2 separate regions of the Homo sapiens genome follow, and region 1 is linked to region 2. Evidence: fine-mapped expression QTL. Tissue or cell type: whole blood. Region 2 holds a variant in brackets; the other region holds the start of a gene. All regions are shown on one strand. Distances are from middle to middle.

The links. PIP is the estimated chance that this variant, and not a neighbour inherited with it, causes the effect.
Region 1: MFF starts here. The variant in region 2 is fine-mapped to the expression of MFF in whole blood (INTERVAL, PIP 0.99).

Annotation. Positions count from the first base shown.
Region 1 is chr2:227,320,612-227,328,702 of GRCh38, reverse strand. It overlaps MFF (mitochondrial fission factor), which reads right to left and starts at 3,452. Exons shown (of 9, transcript NM_001277062.2): 1 at 3,276-3,452; 2 at 1-25. MFF-DT (MFF divergent transcript) reads left to right here and starts at 3,539. Exons shown (of 14, transcript NR_102371.1): 1 at 3,539-3,585. RefSeq lists a silencer at 3,111-3,400 and enhancers at 3,581-3,630, 7,369-7,897.
Region 2 is chr2:227,352,868-227,360,975 of GRCh38, reverse strand. MFF (mitochondrial fission factor) reads right to left here. Exons shown (of 9, transcript NM_001277062.2): 8 at 5,215-5,299; 9 at 3,143-3,990. The coding sequence ends at 3,859. Among named protein-coding and RNA genes, the nearest start is that of TM4SF20, 22 kb to the left of the region's middle. The variant T/C (reference allele first, on the strand shown) is at 4,854.

The sequences.
Region 1 (8,091 bases), 32 kb after region 2:
GCTGGATTGAGAGCCACTTTTGTCCCTGGGGAAGAAAAACAGGGGCTAATTGAGAAACTAGATGAAACCACTATTAGGGATTCATTACTGGAAATTCTCCAAATAGTAACAGTCACAAAGATGCACAACCTGACATCAAGAGACCAGTAAGAAAATAAAGAAAGAAAAAAATTAAGCTTACCACCAATCTTAGTTCCACAGATGGGGTCCTACAACTATTCATTAGTTAAGGCAATATAAAAGACTAGCTCTGTCATTGTTTCTGATTTGTATTTAGAAAAATGTGGCAGATGAAAAATACGTAAGTTTAAATGAATCTAATACTTACGTATATATATGCATATAGGTACACATATATGTTAAAGAAGAACAAATGAATTGGTTTTTTTTTTTTTTTTTTTTTTTTTGTCACCCGGGCTAGATTGCAATGGAGCTTCCTGAATAGCTGGGACTACAGGCATATGCCACCACACCCAGCTAATTTTTGTATTTTTTGTTGAGACAGGGTCTTATTATGTTGTTCAGGCTGATCTCAAACTCCTAGGCTCAAGAAATCCTCTGGCCTTCGTCTCCTAAAGTGCTGGGACTACAGGTGTGAGCCACCGTGCCCGGCCTGTTTAAATTTTCATTCACTTACGATGTTAAAATTTTGAACTAGTAATGCATGTACTCGGTACAAAGTACGCAAGCTATACAGAGAAAAGGAAGTGTCCCACTTTCAATCCTATCCTTAACCACCCAGGTTCCCACAGGCAACCTTTATAATCAATTTTTGTGCATCATTCCAGATGAGATGCTCTTCTAATACTTGCGTGTATCTCAAGCATAGCAAAAGCTCATATTCAGAACTAACACTGAAAAAAGCTACCTCAAAAAGATTATAGCCTTTGGCCATTATAAATTGAAGTTTTATAATAATAAACGAGAACCAAGTGGCTAGAACCTCAGTATCTCCTTGAAATGTGCTTTCTCTGCATTCCATTCATTGCATTTCAGTCTTACGAACTTTCTAGTAGTACATCTCATAGGTCTCACTACTATATTCCATTCTATAGCAACATCTTTTCTTACGAGAATATCTGAGTTTGTAAAAAACTAGTGACTTAGAAAATAAAGGTGGATGCTGAAATGCCAACTTCTGGAAAAAGCCAAGTTCTCCTGTAGCTGAACTACTTACATTTAAAAAGTAACTGGATTTCTACTAAGATTTAACACTGTATTATCCCAATTATTGGGTTTTCTGCTTAAAACCAATCAAAATCTGATTTTTTTTCTCCCTCGTTAGACTGTGGCATTTCTGATAATATCTTTTGGCAATAAATAAACGTCTCATTTGGTGTTGATATGTTAATTCCAGAAGTTTTGTACCTTAGAATCCAGTAGGCAACCAGTACGTGATTCTGTTACATAACAAACGAGGCAAAATCTCTCTTAGAATCACAGATGATTTCATATTTCTACTTTCTAAGCCCAGTGGTTCCCAAACACCAGTAACTAACTTGCCAACTTCATGGGTTTTTTTTTTCCCATATTCACAGAGTACATTAACTTTTTGCTACAGTTAATTTTTTTAACTCGACTTTTTAAAATCAAAAAAGTATTGTAAAAGAAAATTTTGTATCACTACCTTAAACCATGGCTGTACATATATAAATACAGATTGCAAAAACATCCTATTACAAAAAAATCCTCATCCACGTACCGCCTAGAGTCAAGTCACATGCCACTAGCGGAAAGTGTACCAATTTTGGGACACAATGATTCCAGCCCAACTTTCTCATTTTCTGTATTAGAACACTGGAACCCAGAAAGCCTCGGAAGTCACCGAAACAACTTGAGTCAAACTGACTGTGGTTGCAAATGTTTATGTACTTTTCAAAAACAAACATACAAACAAACAAAAACAAACCAAAAAAAACCCTCCAGTTGTTTATTACCTACTGCGTGGACCTAGTTCACACAGATGGGCCACTCTGCACACCCTGTTTCAGTTCTTTTTCAAAGAAACTATATTTAAAAAGTCACTGCAAACTTTTAAAACTATATATTAATGAACTTTAAAATAAGGTTATGAACCCACAGAAAAGTTTCAATACCAGAAGAGAGGAGAGCGAAGACTAAACTTTGCAATTCTGAAAGGAGGCAGCTCTATCAGACAGGAAGGGAGAGAACACAATTTCCTTTTGGAAAAAATGGCAAAACCAATATACAAGCCTTTGAAACCAAAAGATAGAAGGTCCCCCAAGCAATTTAATTGCATGGGAAAAGACTACTAAGTATAACTAAATCGTCCTAATTTTCCTAAGGGTTTTTCTTTTGGGCTCTCATTAGCCAACGGAATTGAGGCAGAAAAAATGTTTTTCACGCAGGGAGACAAAACATTTGTGATCATCTTAAGTCTCTCGGTGGATGAGAGGCCTGAATACAAATGGTTCTATATTTGGGCAGAAGGGCCAGAAACCTTTTTTTTTTTTTTCCCCTTTAATGTTCTCCAATGAAAACATGTCACTTTTGAAAGGGTGCTCTTCCCTCGAGAATGCCCTTTGCTTCTAACTTTGTGGGAGGTAGACAGGGGTGTTCTTTTACGATAGTAATAGTAGCACACGTCCTGCAGAGGAAGGTCAGAAGCTCGGCGGAACAGGAACCGCAGCTTTCCTCCGGCTTCCCAGCTCCTGGAAGGAAACCCGAGAGCAACTGCCTGCAGCCACATCTGCGAGCAGGGATGCTCACAGACGGACAGGGTGGCCCGCAGCCACCCGCGATGCCACAACCTGGGCTTCCAACAAGGCCCTTCTTTTCCAAAATGTACTTGCCACAAAACAACACAAAAACCTCCTTTTAAACAAGGCAGGTTTAAGGTCAGCCTGTAAGGTGTCAGGGCCTTGGCAGGGAAGGATGAGTGAAGACCTGCAAAGCCCGGCGTTCACGCTCACGGGACTCCCGCTGCTTCCCAAACCCCTATTTTCCAGTCGGAAAAGTCCGGGTTAATACACAAAAGGAGACGCCGAACCACACAAGGTGAAGAGGTTCGCCCAAAAACACCTGCAGAAGACGCTCCTCTCCCTCGCTCTCCTCGGGGACTCAAGGTCCCGGGGAGGAGGAAAGACCAGGGTTGAAGGCAAGAGGCCCGGGGACGGGACTCGGGTCAGGGAGACACTACCGGGGGGGCCGGGGCCACCGCGGGTCCCTGTTGGCCGGAGGGTCTCGGCGGCGGCGATAGGCCTGGCAGCCAGCTCGGGCGGCAGGTCGCGGGTCGGGAAGACGTCAACACTCACCCCTGGGCCCACAGGAGGGTCCCGGCGAGGACCCCCGCCCTCTGGCTCCCGGGGCGCTCGAGTGGGCGCTCTCAGAGGTGGTTGGCTGAGAGCACGGAGGCGCCCAGGGACAGCACCGGCGGAGCGGCCCGCAGAGGGCCAGGGCAGAAGCGCGAAAGGCGCGGGCTGGCCCCTTCTGGGAGCCGTAGCGGAAGAGTGTTCGTGGTCATGTGACGCGGAAAAGGGCGGACGCGTGGCCCACGCACTGGAACGGCTCCACGGTAAGCGATGCGCAGACATCTTTGTTGTGGGCGAAACGAGGTGACCGCAGGTGACTCCTCTTGCGGTTAAGTTTAATTCACACTTCGGCTTTATTAGATTTTGTAATCTTTAAGAACTTGGTGTTTGCAAGGTAAACCTTTGGTAGCCAATTAAAACAACTTTTTCAGGACCATCTGGCATGAAAATTTCTATGCTGTGAGGCTTAGGAATTCTCATATGTAAATCAGCTCCGCCAGTGATTCCATGAGTTCCAATTTGATACTTCTTAAGCCCTCGGTTGATCAGACCTTGTCTTCCATGAGAATTCCGGGAGAGGGGAAGTTAAGTTTCACAGTAGTTGGCGGCATCGTTTAGCTTTGGGAGAGCACTCTCTGCTTCTGAACACCCAACCACAGACTCTTCCCCCCAGGAAGCCCTTGCTTAGAGCGGGGGAAAAATGGTACAGTGCTTGTCAGTATGGGAATGTACTGAGGCCAAATAATGTGATATTTTATATGCCTTGGTTTTCACAAACACCTAAAGGTGTACACATGACTTATGTACTCCCCTACGATCTAATTGATATTCTAGAGATGTTACCATTCTTCAAAATGATTTGGGAAGCCCTCTGAATTGCGTTCTTGGGCTTCTTAACACTGGTGTAGGGAAAGTGAAAATATTTCCTCTCCCCTCTTGGGGTCTTGGCTGGGCCTAAGAATTAAACTGATGAGGAAAAGAGTCAAACTCTAAAATATTTGAAGAGATTTATTCTGAGCCAAATGTGAGTGACCATGGCCCGTGACAGAGCCCTCAGGAGGTCCTGAGAACATGTGTCCAAGGTGGTTGGGGCGCAGCTTGGTTTTATGTATTTTAGGGAGGCATGAGACATCAATCAAATAAATTTAAGAACTACATTGGTTTGGTTCAGAAAGGTGGGACAACTCAAAGCAGGGGCTTCCAAGGCTGTAGGTAAATTTAAACATTTTCTGGTTGACAGTTGAAGACCTGGGACCCATAGAAAGGAAATGTTGAGGTTAAAATAAAAGATTGTGGAGACCAAGGTTCTTTTGAAGTCTTATAGTGGCTGCCCTTAGAGACAATGGATGACAAATGTTTCCTATTCAGATCTTTAAAAGGTGCTAGATTCTTACGTAATCTCTTTAGGATTGGGAGGACCTGGAAGAAAATGATCTAGCTATGTTAATAGAAATTCTATGTAGATGCAGATTTTCCCCCAACAAAGGACAGCTTTGCAGAGCCGTTTCAAGATATGTCAAAAACTAAAAAAAATGTTTTGCGGTAAAATATTTTGATTTTGTTTCTTGTCTCGTTATGCCAGTGTCAGATTGGAAAGTAAGTCACAATATATAGGGTTAAATAAAACCCATCTGATGAGAATTTATGGATTGTAGGGCATGAATCCCTAGGCCCCTTAGATAGGAATTTGAGCAAGATTAAAAAAAAAATCAGAGCTTAGTCTCCACTGACGTAAAATAGAGACATAAAACATAACAGGAGGAAAGCATACAAATTTTATTTAGTAATTTTTACATTTACATTGGAGCCTTCCCTAGAAAAATGGAGACCCAAATTAACAGTTGGACCCTAAGTGCTTTTGAGTCTCCATTTTTCTAGGGAAGGCTAAAAAGAGTAGTAAATTGTGAAAATGTGAGAAAACAAACAGATTTGGGTTAGTGCAGTTAATGCAGAAGTGACTAAGAAGATAAAGGTTGTTGTAACAAAGTGGAAATGAAAATCGGTAAGTTTGTGCAGATACAGCTCAGCTTTGACTCCATGTCTCTGGTGTTGAGAACATCTCCCTTCCTCCTTATACAGGGAGGGCACCTTTCATACGGAAGTTTTATCTCCTGCTTTCAGGAAGGAAAAAGGAAAGCCACAGTGCTCTTTTTGCATTTTTTTTTTAAGTGCCTTTGACTCGAAAATAATCTTTATGCCAAAGTGCCATATTTTGGGTTGGCATATCCTACTATTGACAGAGCAGAAGCACTGCCATTTTAAAGTGCCCCTTGATCAAAAACCACCTAAATCCAACCCAGAGGGCATCAGCCTAATGGCTGTCAGCATGACCACAAACCACAAATGACACCTCCGACCAGAAACATTCTAACTCTAAGATAAACCCCTCTCCCACCAGACACATGCCAGCCCCAAGATAACCTTCCCTCTGACCGAGCGATGTCAGCCCCAAGATAACCTTCCCTCTGACCGGAGCGATGTCAGCCCCAAGATAACCCCTCCCCTCCAACCAGAGACATTCCAACCCTGTAATAAACTTCTCCTCCAAGCAGAAATATTCCAAGCCTGTGATAAGCTCTCTCACCCTAAACCCTTAAATACTCTTAGTCTGTAAGAGAGAGTGCTCCTGACCAAAATTGGCCAGAAGCCCCTCTCAGGTTTATTCTCTAAAATAAACCTATCCTTGATTGTTGAGCCACTTTTTGTGTTTCTCTCTTCTTTCTTTAACTCTTAACAACTACCCTACAGAGACAAATAAGCCTTTAAGAATAGATTGATTTTTAGGAATAATAAGTCATTCCAAGTCAATCTTTTGTGGGAAGATAGAGATCAAGTTGGGAGATCATGCATTAGGTTGGTTCTGAGGACTAAGCTCTGATTTTTTTATCTTGCTCAAATTCCTATCTAAGGGGTTTGGGGAGTCATGTTCTCCAAACCATAAATGCACATCAGATGGGTTTTATTTAACCGTGTATATCATGACTTACTTTCCAATCTGACTCTGGCATAATAAGGAAGAAAATAAAAATATTTTACCCAAAAATATCTTTCCTTGCCCTACCTTGAAATTGTCCTGCAAAGTCTCTTATGGGAAAAATCCACATTCTGTAGAGAATCTGCTTTCCCCTTTGTTTTCCTTCCTTCTGTGTCCGGAATTGGTGGGTTCTTGGTCTCGCCGACTTCAAGAATGAAGCTGCGAATACTTGCGGTGAGTCTTACAGTTCTTAAAGATGGTGTGTCATGTGTCCGGAGTTTGTTTCTTCAGATGTTCAGATGTGTCCGGAGTTTCTTCCTTCTGGTGGGCTCATGGTCTTGCTGGCTTCAGGAGTGGAGCTGCAGACCTTTGCGGTGACTGTTACAGCTCTTAAAGGCAGCACATCTGGAGTTGTTCATTCCTCCTGTCCAGAGTTATTTGTCCCTCCTGGTGGGTTTGTGGTCTTGCTGGCTTCAGGAGTGAAGCTGCAGACCTTCGCGGTGAGTGTTACAGCTCATAAAGGCAGCGTGGACCCAAAGAGTGAGCAGCAGCAAGATTTATTGCAAAGAGCAAAAGAACAAAGCTTCTACAACATGAAAGGGGACCCCAGCAGGTTGCTGCTGCTGGCCCAGTCAGCCTGCTTTTATTCCTTTATCTGGCCCCCACCCACATCCTGCTGATTGGTCCATTTTACAGAGAGCTGATTGGTCCATTTTACAGAAAGCTGATTGGTCCATTTTGACAGGGTGCTGATTGGTGCATTTACAATCCCTGAGCTAGACACAGAGTGCTGATTGGTGCATTTACAATCCTCCAGCTAGACATAAAAGTTCTCCAAGTCCCCACCAGATTACTAGACACAGAGCACTGATTGTTGCGTTTACAAACATTTAGCTAGACAGAGAGTGCTGATTGATGCATTTACAATCCTCTAGCTAGACATAAAAGTTCTCCAAGTCCCCACTAGATTAGCTAGACACAGAGCACTGATTGGTATGTTTACAAACCTTTAGCTAGAGACAGAGTGCTGATTGATGCATCTACAATCGTCTAGCTAGACATAAAAGTTCTCCAAGTCCCCACTGGATTAGCTAGACACAGAGCACTGATTGGTGCGTTTACAAACCTTTAGCTACACACAGAGCACTGATTGGTGTGTTTACAAACCTTGAGCTAGACACAGAGTGCTGATTGGTGCATTTACAATCCTCTAGCTAGACGTAAAAGTTCTCCAAGTCCCCACCAGATTAGCTAGATACAGAGTGCTGATTGGTGCATCCACAAACCCCGACCTAGACACAGAGTGCTGATTGGTGCATATACAATCTTCCAGCTAGACATAAAAGTTCTCCAAGACCCCACCTGACTCTAGAGTCCAGTTGGCTTTGCCTAGTGGATCCTGTGCTGGGGCTGTGGGCAGAGCTGCCCTCCAGTCCCGTGCTGCGCACATGCACACCTCAGCTCTTGTGCGGTCGATGGGACCAGGCGCCGTGGAGCAGGGGGCGGTGCCCATCAGGGAGGCTCAGGCTGTGAGGGAGCCCATGGTGGGGGTGGCTCGGGCATGGTGAGCTGCAGGTCCTGAGCCCTGCCCCGTGGGGAGGTGGCTGAGGCCCGGTGAGAATCCAAGCGTGGCGCAGGTGGGCTGGTAGTGCTGGGGGACCCGGCGCACCCTCTGCAGCTGCTGGCCTGAGTGCTAAGCCCCTCACTGCCTGGGGCCAGCGGTGCTGGCCGGCCACTTTGAGCGTGGGGCCTGCCAAGCCCGCACCCACACGGAACGCGTGCTGGCCTGCGAGCACTGCACACAGCCCTGGTTCCTGCCTGCGCCTCTCCCCCCACACCTCCCTG
Region 2 (8,108 bases):
AAGGTGGTGACTTGGAAGGAATCCCTATGTCAAGTGAGAAAAAAAAATGATGTCTGACCTCCTTATATATGTAAAAAATATACCTTCAGAGTCCGTCAGTAAGCTGGAAGAAGTGGATGTTGAAGTTTTTAACATCGATGATGGGTCTCCAGTTGTTCATCAACCCATGGTGAAATAGCTGAACGGTTCTGAATCAAAGGTGATCCTAATAGTGAAGACATTAACATTGCAGAAAAAGTGCCTACAGATTATATGGTGAAAATACGTGATGGGCTTCTTGAAGGACTAGAGCAGTGTGTATTCAAAACAGAACAAGAAATCACGTCAGTTTATAAAAGCAAAGAGAGGTTTCTCAGACAAAAACATTGTTCATGAGGTAGATGACTCTGGAAGAAATACTTTAAAAAGCCACTGAGAAGAATGCCTCGTCTCCACAGGATCCACTTCCTAGCCTCTCAACTGCTTCTCATGTTTCTTCTCACTGAAAAAAATAGTGTCCAGTAATCTTTACTCCAACAGTACCGCCAGTGGGGACAGGAAACTTGCCGTGGCTGTTCTTGGTTGTGGCTGTTGTCTAACAGCTGGTGCAGTATCTGGTGATGCCCCTGTGCTGCTTAGTTACTTGAACGCAGTTTTTTCACTGTATTAATAGTGTGTCATTTTTTAATGTTAAGTATTTATGTGTGAAAAAGTGTTAAGAAAAAATGACTGTTTATTGGCAGCATATACACTCAGAGTCAGGAATGATAGTGATGGCAAAAAACCCGACTGTCCACATGCGTGGCTGAGATATCACTATGACATCTTTGCTTTTTGCTTTCTGATGGTTCAGCATACACAAACTTTGTTTCATACACAAAATTTGAAATATTGTATAAAATTATCTTTAGGTTATGTGTAGAGGGTATGTATGAAATATAAATGAATTTCATGTTTAGACTTGGGTCCCATCCTCAAGATATCTCATTATGTATATGTAAATACTTGAAAATCTGAAAAACTCTGAAATTCAAAATACTTCTGGTCCAAAGAATTTTGGATAAGGGCTGGGCAATCACTATAGTTAAGGAGCTGGAAACACACATTCATGCAGGAAGGAAGGAAAAAGGAAAGCTCTCTTGAAAATATACTACTTCCATGATGTTATCCTTCAAAGTGTAAACAACCTGCACATACTTCAACCATAATTACTAGAAGTGGGGAGAAGGGTGCACTTTCAGTAGTGCAACAATATATTTGCTATACTTAGTTGTATGATACGACTTTGGCTCCTGACTGTATCCATTTCTCCCTCTATCATCTGCACCTGGAATATTTTCTTGTTCTTTCTCTGCTTGTTGAAAGGCTCAGCTCAAATATCTGGTTATACTAACCAGGAACTAATTTGTTCTTCTCAACTCCAAAATATATTTCAACAGTAATTAACAATTTTTAGGGGAAGTACACAGGTGTTTAATAGAGATCCTAACTTTGGAGTTAGAGAGATTCAAGCTTTTCTACTTCTAGATATGTGACAAGGTCAGGTAAGGCAGGTTTCTTGGTTGTCCCCTTTTGCACTGTAAACAGAGTTTTCATTCACCGTCTGTTGGGGTCTTAGCTTCATTCACGAGTCTCCTGTTACAGCTGGTGCCTGCCTGAGGTAGGGAAGTCGATCTTCTACCCCTTGCACAATCATTAAGGGAGAAAGCTCCAAGTGTCCATTCTTTGGTAAGAATCATGAGGGAAAAAAAGGGCTTCCGCACTTCTCTCTCAGTATTCCTGCTTTTATTTCATTTTTTGACCTTTGTGGAATCCTTTTCATGTCTGTTTATCAAAAGATACTAACCTTATCCATCATTTTTCTTCATTTTTGTGATTTCAATTTGGAGGATAACCACAGAAATTACCTTCTGGTATACATAAATCTAGAATTAATATAGTTGCATCATTACCAAAAGTCAGAAAACTTCTAAGTACAGAGAAGAATCTTTGTCTTGATATTATTTTAGAGGGATAAGAAGCAAGAACGGAAATGCTAAATCTAACTCTATCCAAGGAATTTCCTCAACTGCCTTTCCCCAAACTCCCTGCCTTGGAAGAAAGATACCAAAGATGTGTGGAGAATGTTGCACCTAACTGAATTCTACCCATTTCTGAACCGAAAATGGGGAAATATAAGTTTTGAGAGCTAAAACTGTCTAGCACTTGGCTTCACTTGGTTTAATTCTTTTGAGATTTACTTTTAAATTTTTAGTTTTTTTTTGAGACGGAGTTTGGCTCTGTCACTCAGGCTGGAGTACAGTGGCATGATCTCAGCTTACTGCAACCTCTGCCTTCTGGGTTCAAGTGATTCTTCTGCCTCAGCCTCCTGAGTAGCTGGGATTACAGCTATTGCCACCATGCCTGCCACCACACCTGGCTAATTTTTGTATTTTTGGTAGAGATGGGGTTTCACTGTATTGGCCAGGCTGGTCTCGAACTCCTGACTTCAAGTGATCCACCCGCCTAGGCCTCCCAAAGTATTAGGATTACGGGCGTGAGCCACCACACCCAGCCTTGAGATTTAAATTCACCTATATATAATTAGCAAATAAATACTGCCATGAAAAAAGTATATACAACTCTGGCTGGGCGCAGTGGCTGTAATCCCAGCACTTTGGGAGGCTGAGGCAGGCAGACCACCTGAGGTCAGGAGTTCGAGACCAGCCTGGCCAACATGGCGAAACCCTGTATCTACTAAAAATACAAAAATTAGTTGGGTGTGGTGGCCAGCGCCTGTAATCCCAGCTACTCTGGAGGCTGAGGCAGAAGGATCACTTGAACCTGGGAGGTGGAGGTTGCAGTGAGCTGAGATCATGCCACGGGACTCCAGCATCAGCAACAGAGCGAGACTCCATCTCAAAAAAAAAAAAGTATACACAACTCAAGGTATTTAAACCTGAACCACTTTATAGATATTATAAATTAGAAAACCACCTACAATGCAACCAACAGCCACCACCACCAGGATGAAGGTCTGAAAGGAAGCACAGCAGGTTCTTGCTACCTACCAGGTCATTAATTGTATTACTTGCTCTGAGACGGGAAGACTCATAAGGTAATATGATACAAAATGTAGCTGATTGCACAAATGATGAAATAAAATCCTTCAACAGACAAATACTTCTTTGGTTGACAGTTTATTAAATACACTACATTTGTACCTTATTCTGTCGTTTTTTAAATTGTTCACGCATGAACTGAGTAAAAACGTACTTTATAGAAAACCAAGTGCAAAACTAAAATGAAAGAATGCACATATTGCACACATATGAAACTGCTGCAATGTTAGAAATTAATCTGTACAAGTACCTAATGAAGAAGGTTATGAAATATTAGGTGGTTCGAGTTTCTTAAATCTGGCACCAGACCATGACTTTGAAAGTGTTAATGTTGAAGTGTCGATGCAAAAATGTCTATTAACAAAACTGCTTAACACTGTTTGAGAAACAGGACAAAATAATTGTTTTTCTTTCACAGACACTTTTCTGAATCAATTCTCTACAGACTCTCTCCCATTCAGAATCAGTTGGGTGGACTGATGAGGCAAAAAATAAATTCCTTTTAAAAAACAAAACTGGAGCCTATTTACAAAACATGCAAAGGGAGAATTTTAAGCAGGTGTTACTGCAGAACTGCTCAGACGTGAATACAGCTGAGTGACAGAATATACCTTTACTTCTACAAATATAGGTCCTTCCTCCAGACTTTCTGGAAGAAATACATTTTCAGGGTGTGGACTATAAAATGGCATACAATGCAGAGACAGAAACAAAGAAGTTTGCAAATCTTTTATATTTCCAGCTGTTGAGACAGTATTTTTGAGGGCTGATGTTACCTCTAGCGGCGAAACCAGAGCCAGCTATTAAGCAGCCAGAAAGCTACAGTAATTGAATACATGACCATTTCTCTTTTAGCACGTTCTTTGTTCTCCTCTTCCAGAAGTTGTAGACGTCTATTTAGTTTGATTATCTAAGTGAAAAACAAACACACAAAAAATATAATATAGAGGCTTTAATGAATAGGGCAATCAGATTCTTATAAAGTAAGTAGTATAATAATTTGTCAACAAAAGTATTATTACAAACATGGAAAGTTTCATTTGGAGCAAAATAAACACAACTACACATAGAAAAACATGTCATTCATGACAGCTTAAATTCACTTAAACATCCTTTCCCTTTCCCTTCTTCAGATTTCTGAGTTAGGAAGGGTGTATTTCCTTCCTAACTTGATTACATAGTGAGGTGAGGAAGCGGTTACCTACTGTTATTCTGGCAGAAAAGACTCAGTATGCATTTTGGCAGGCTTACCACAGCAGAAAGAATACGGGACTCCTTCCCCTTTCTATGCCTCTCCTATGAACTTGTCACTCAACCTCAGTTGTTCATCTTGAACCTGGCATAACCGCCTTCTCTGTCCACCTCTGAGTTACTGAGACAATCCAATAAAATAATCTACTGTAGGGGGCCTTGGGATATGGCACCCAAACCCTTCAGGCCTGAAGGCTAATTCCCCAGCTGCTGGAAATGCTGCTGGCTGACAGTACCATCCTTGCTGTTAGCCCTTACTGTGAAAATCCCAGGGCTGAACAACCACCTGCTAAAGCTTGTGTTCTCCTACTGATCTTCACCTAAAAATATCTTATTTAATCCAATTTCCCTCTATATCTATTTGGTATAGACGCAATGAGAAAACCAACTATGCCTTCTTCACATGTGTGTATGTCTGTGTGATACTCGAGGCTGTGGGAGTACATATTAAAAAATATGCATGTGCAACTGCAGTTCTAAGAAAGGATTTATTACAGAATACAGGAAATACGTATGCAGGGA[T/C]GCTGTGCAAGCTGCAAGGAGCGGTTTCCAAAATGGAGTTATTAAACACAGTAACAAAGGTTCCAAAGTAATTGTTCCACATTTCAAAAGCCAAACAAGCAACTGATGGCTGTACTGGTTTGCTAAAGATTCTTTGTTACTGGCCAGAATTACATTAATCTATCTTGGTAATACTGTTTTACGGTGATCAAAACATGTAAATGGTAGTTTAATATATCTTTAATCAAAATGAGAAAATCAATGATGGCTTACTAGTTTGATAGTCCCACAGGAGAGAAAATAATAAAATGTTGAGAACTATCACTTTAAAATATTGTATGAATATAACTGAGAAATATATCTTATTTGGTACACTAAATACCTGTCGTCTTAGTGAAGCTGCATCTACAACAGTCAGGTCATCTGACGTTCCTTCAATGGTTGTATCTATATTTGAAATGCCATACCTGCAGATAAGAGATAGAAATACAAATGAATAGTAAAGTAGAACTCAGAGTAAATGGCACGCCACATCATGCTTTGTGTAATGCTCAAAGTAGTATTCAGAAAATTGGTACTTAATAATATGAATTACTAAAATATTTTACTACCTGAATTTGTACTAATAAAGGAAAGAAAAAAGCTTAAAATGACAACTGTCTACAATATTGAAAAAGGGCACTAAAAACTGGAGAATGGGAAAAAAATCCTGACTAAAGAAACACATAGAAAATTCTCAAGCCAGAAGGATTGGCGATGCTAAAAAGGGTCCCTGGCTGAAAAGGTTTGAGAGCTGCCACTTAGGATAGAACAAAATATAATTCTTACACAAACTTATGTCCATATGTAAGCCCATAGGCACAGACTCACTAGCAGGGAACACAAAGTAGACTAACTCTAAAAAAAGAAAGACTCATCACCTCTTCTCACTGCCTCTTGTCTTGCCATTTTTATTCTTTACTTCTTGTCTTTTTATTTTTTTGAGACAGAGTTTCACTTTTGTTGCCCAGGCTGGAGTGCAATGGCACAATCTCGGCTCATTGCAACCTCCACCTCTGGGGTTCAAGTGATTCTCCTACCTCAGCCTCCCAAGTAGCTGGAATTACAGGCACCTGCCACCATGCCCGGCTAATTTTTGTACTTTTAGTAGAGATGGGGTTTCACCATTTTGGCCAGGCTGGTCTCAAAGTCCTGACCTCAGGTGATCCACCCACCTCAGCCTCCTAAATTGCTGGGATTACAGGCCTGAGCAACCACGCCTGGCCTATTCTTTACTTATTTCCAATTACTTATGCTCTACTGTGTTCTCCCGCAGAAACAATTATAAAATCTCCTGAATACATCTTACCACTACATTTAGCTCCAGAATTGGCCCAATAATGAATAAAATGCTGTGTATAAAATAATACTGAAAAACCATTAAGACAAAATCCAGAGAAAGCATATTAAAAAAGTACTTTTTGTTCCAATGTAGTTACTTCTAAAGCGGCACTAATTTCTAGGTGAATGACACTAAACCTCTGAAAAACAAAGACAAACGCCATTCCTCTTCTTTGCCTGGATTTCCACATTTTAAAATTTAGTTTAATTAATAGCTTCATTGAGATACAACTTATATAACCACATAATTCACCTCACATGTATTTTATACCCTAAATGGTTATTTTAGTAAAATGGCATAGTAAATTTTCTAAATGAGCAGAATATAAATAAACTAAATTAAAAGTTATTCCTGTGTAGTCCAGAGAATTGGCAAATGGATCATCTATTCTAATACCTATCCCAGCAAGTCCCCACTACAAAAAGTACATACCCACAAAAAGGGATATGAAGCAGAATTATACTTTTCATCCAGACATGTTAAAGACAAGTCTACTCAGAAAATCCTTTTGTTTTAAATATTGTTAAAAGTAATAAAAATACTTTAATAAAGTATGCAAAAAACCTTAAACAATAGATGGTGTGTACTGACTCTAGATAATCTACAACCATCTCCAAATATTCCTTCTATGGCTAAATTATCCTGCTTTCTCATTAACTGTCTCCTTATTTCATGAGAACACAGTAAACAACCTGGAGCAGTTAGGGTAATTATACCAGTTAGAGAAGTAAACTTCTAAGTTAGTAGATGCTGGAACTATGGGTTTACAAATGATTAGTGGAAAAAATAAAGGTAGAAGATTCCCTTTTCCTTCACTTCATCCTCAAAATAAAACTCTTCTCTTTCTCTGAGGCCACATAACAGAGGAATAATTAGGAAAAAAATCAAACAGAAGCAATTGTTAAAGGGATCTGAACTGAACATACAGAATGAAGTACAAATGAAAGCGATTACTCACAATTTATATCCTGAATTAACTAAGGTTTAGATATCTGAAATCTCGATTTGCAAAGAAATATAAGGATATGACAAAAGATTTTACCTATATACTTCAATTTAAAACAAAAATATGTTACTTTACATTGTGTTTTAAACAAAAACCGTATTTATTAGAACTAAAAAACTCTAATGCTAAGTTAGACCACTGGCTGAAAATACTCTGACAGAAAGATAAAAGATCACAAACTTAGAGAAAAATATAAGGGAAAACGACAATGAACTGAACTAAGATTGTAAAAAGAAACAAGTCAGCAGAGTGGTAAGGGATTACCACAGGCACGCTTTTCAATTCCTCCACCATGAATTCAATTTTAATGAGCAGCTAATGCTTCCCTTTTCTCTTGCTTCAATGAATGCACCAACTTCTAAGCACAGAAACGATGCTGCCAGTTTTAAATCTACTGCTACCGACAATATATTTCTGCTTAAATAAAACTGACTGAAAAAATTATACAGTAATAGCATCTGTGAATACCAACAAGTTTTTGATTTTTTCCAGACTATAGGAAAACTAAATGGGGATTTTGGCACTTAAGAACTGCATGTATTTGTATGTGCCATTCTGCCAGCCTCTGTGCGTGTCAGGAAGAAAGGAACGCTCAACCTACGCGTGTCTGAAAGTGTAAAAAGGGCAAAAATAAGAGAGAAGGCCTTAAATCAACAGATGATAAAAATGCTTAAAACTAAATTTCCTTTCTAAATATGTACCTTCCCAAACTGTGGAGTTGTTAATGCTGATTTCTCCCAATTTAAGATGAAGCCTTACAAACAAAGACAGGTTTGTTCACACACTAAAAGTAACATTCCAGATAATTAACAACTTAAAAGGAAATGCTGGGCACAATTCAGGCAACCATTAAAATGATGTACATAAAATAAGATTTAAGACTTTTTTC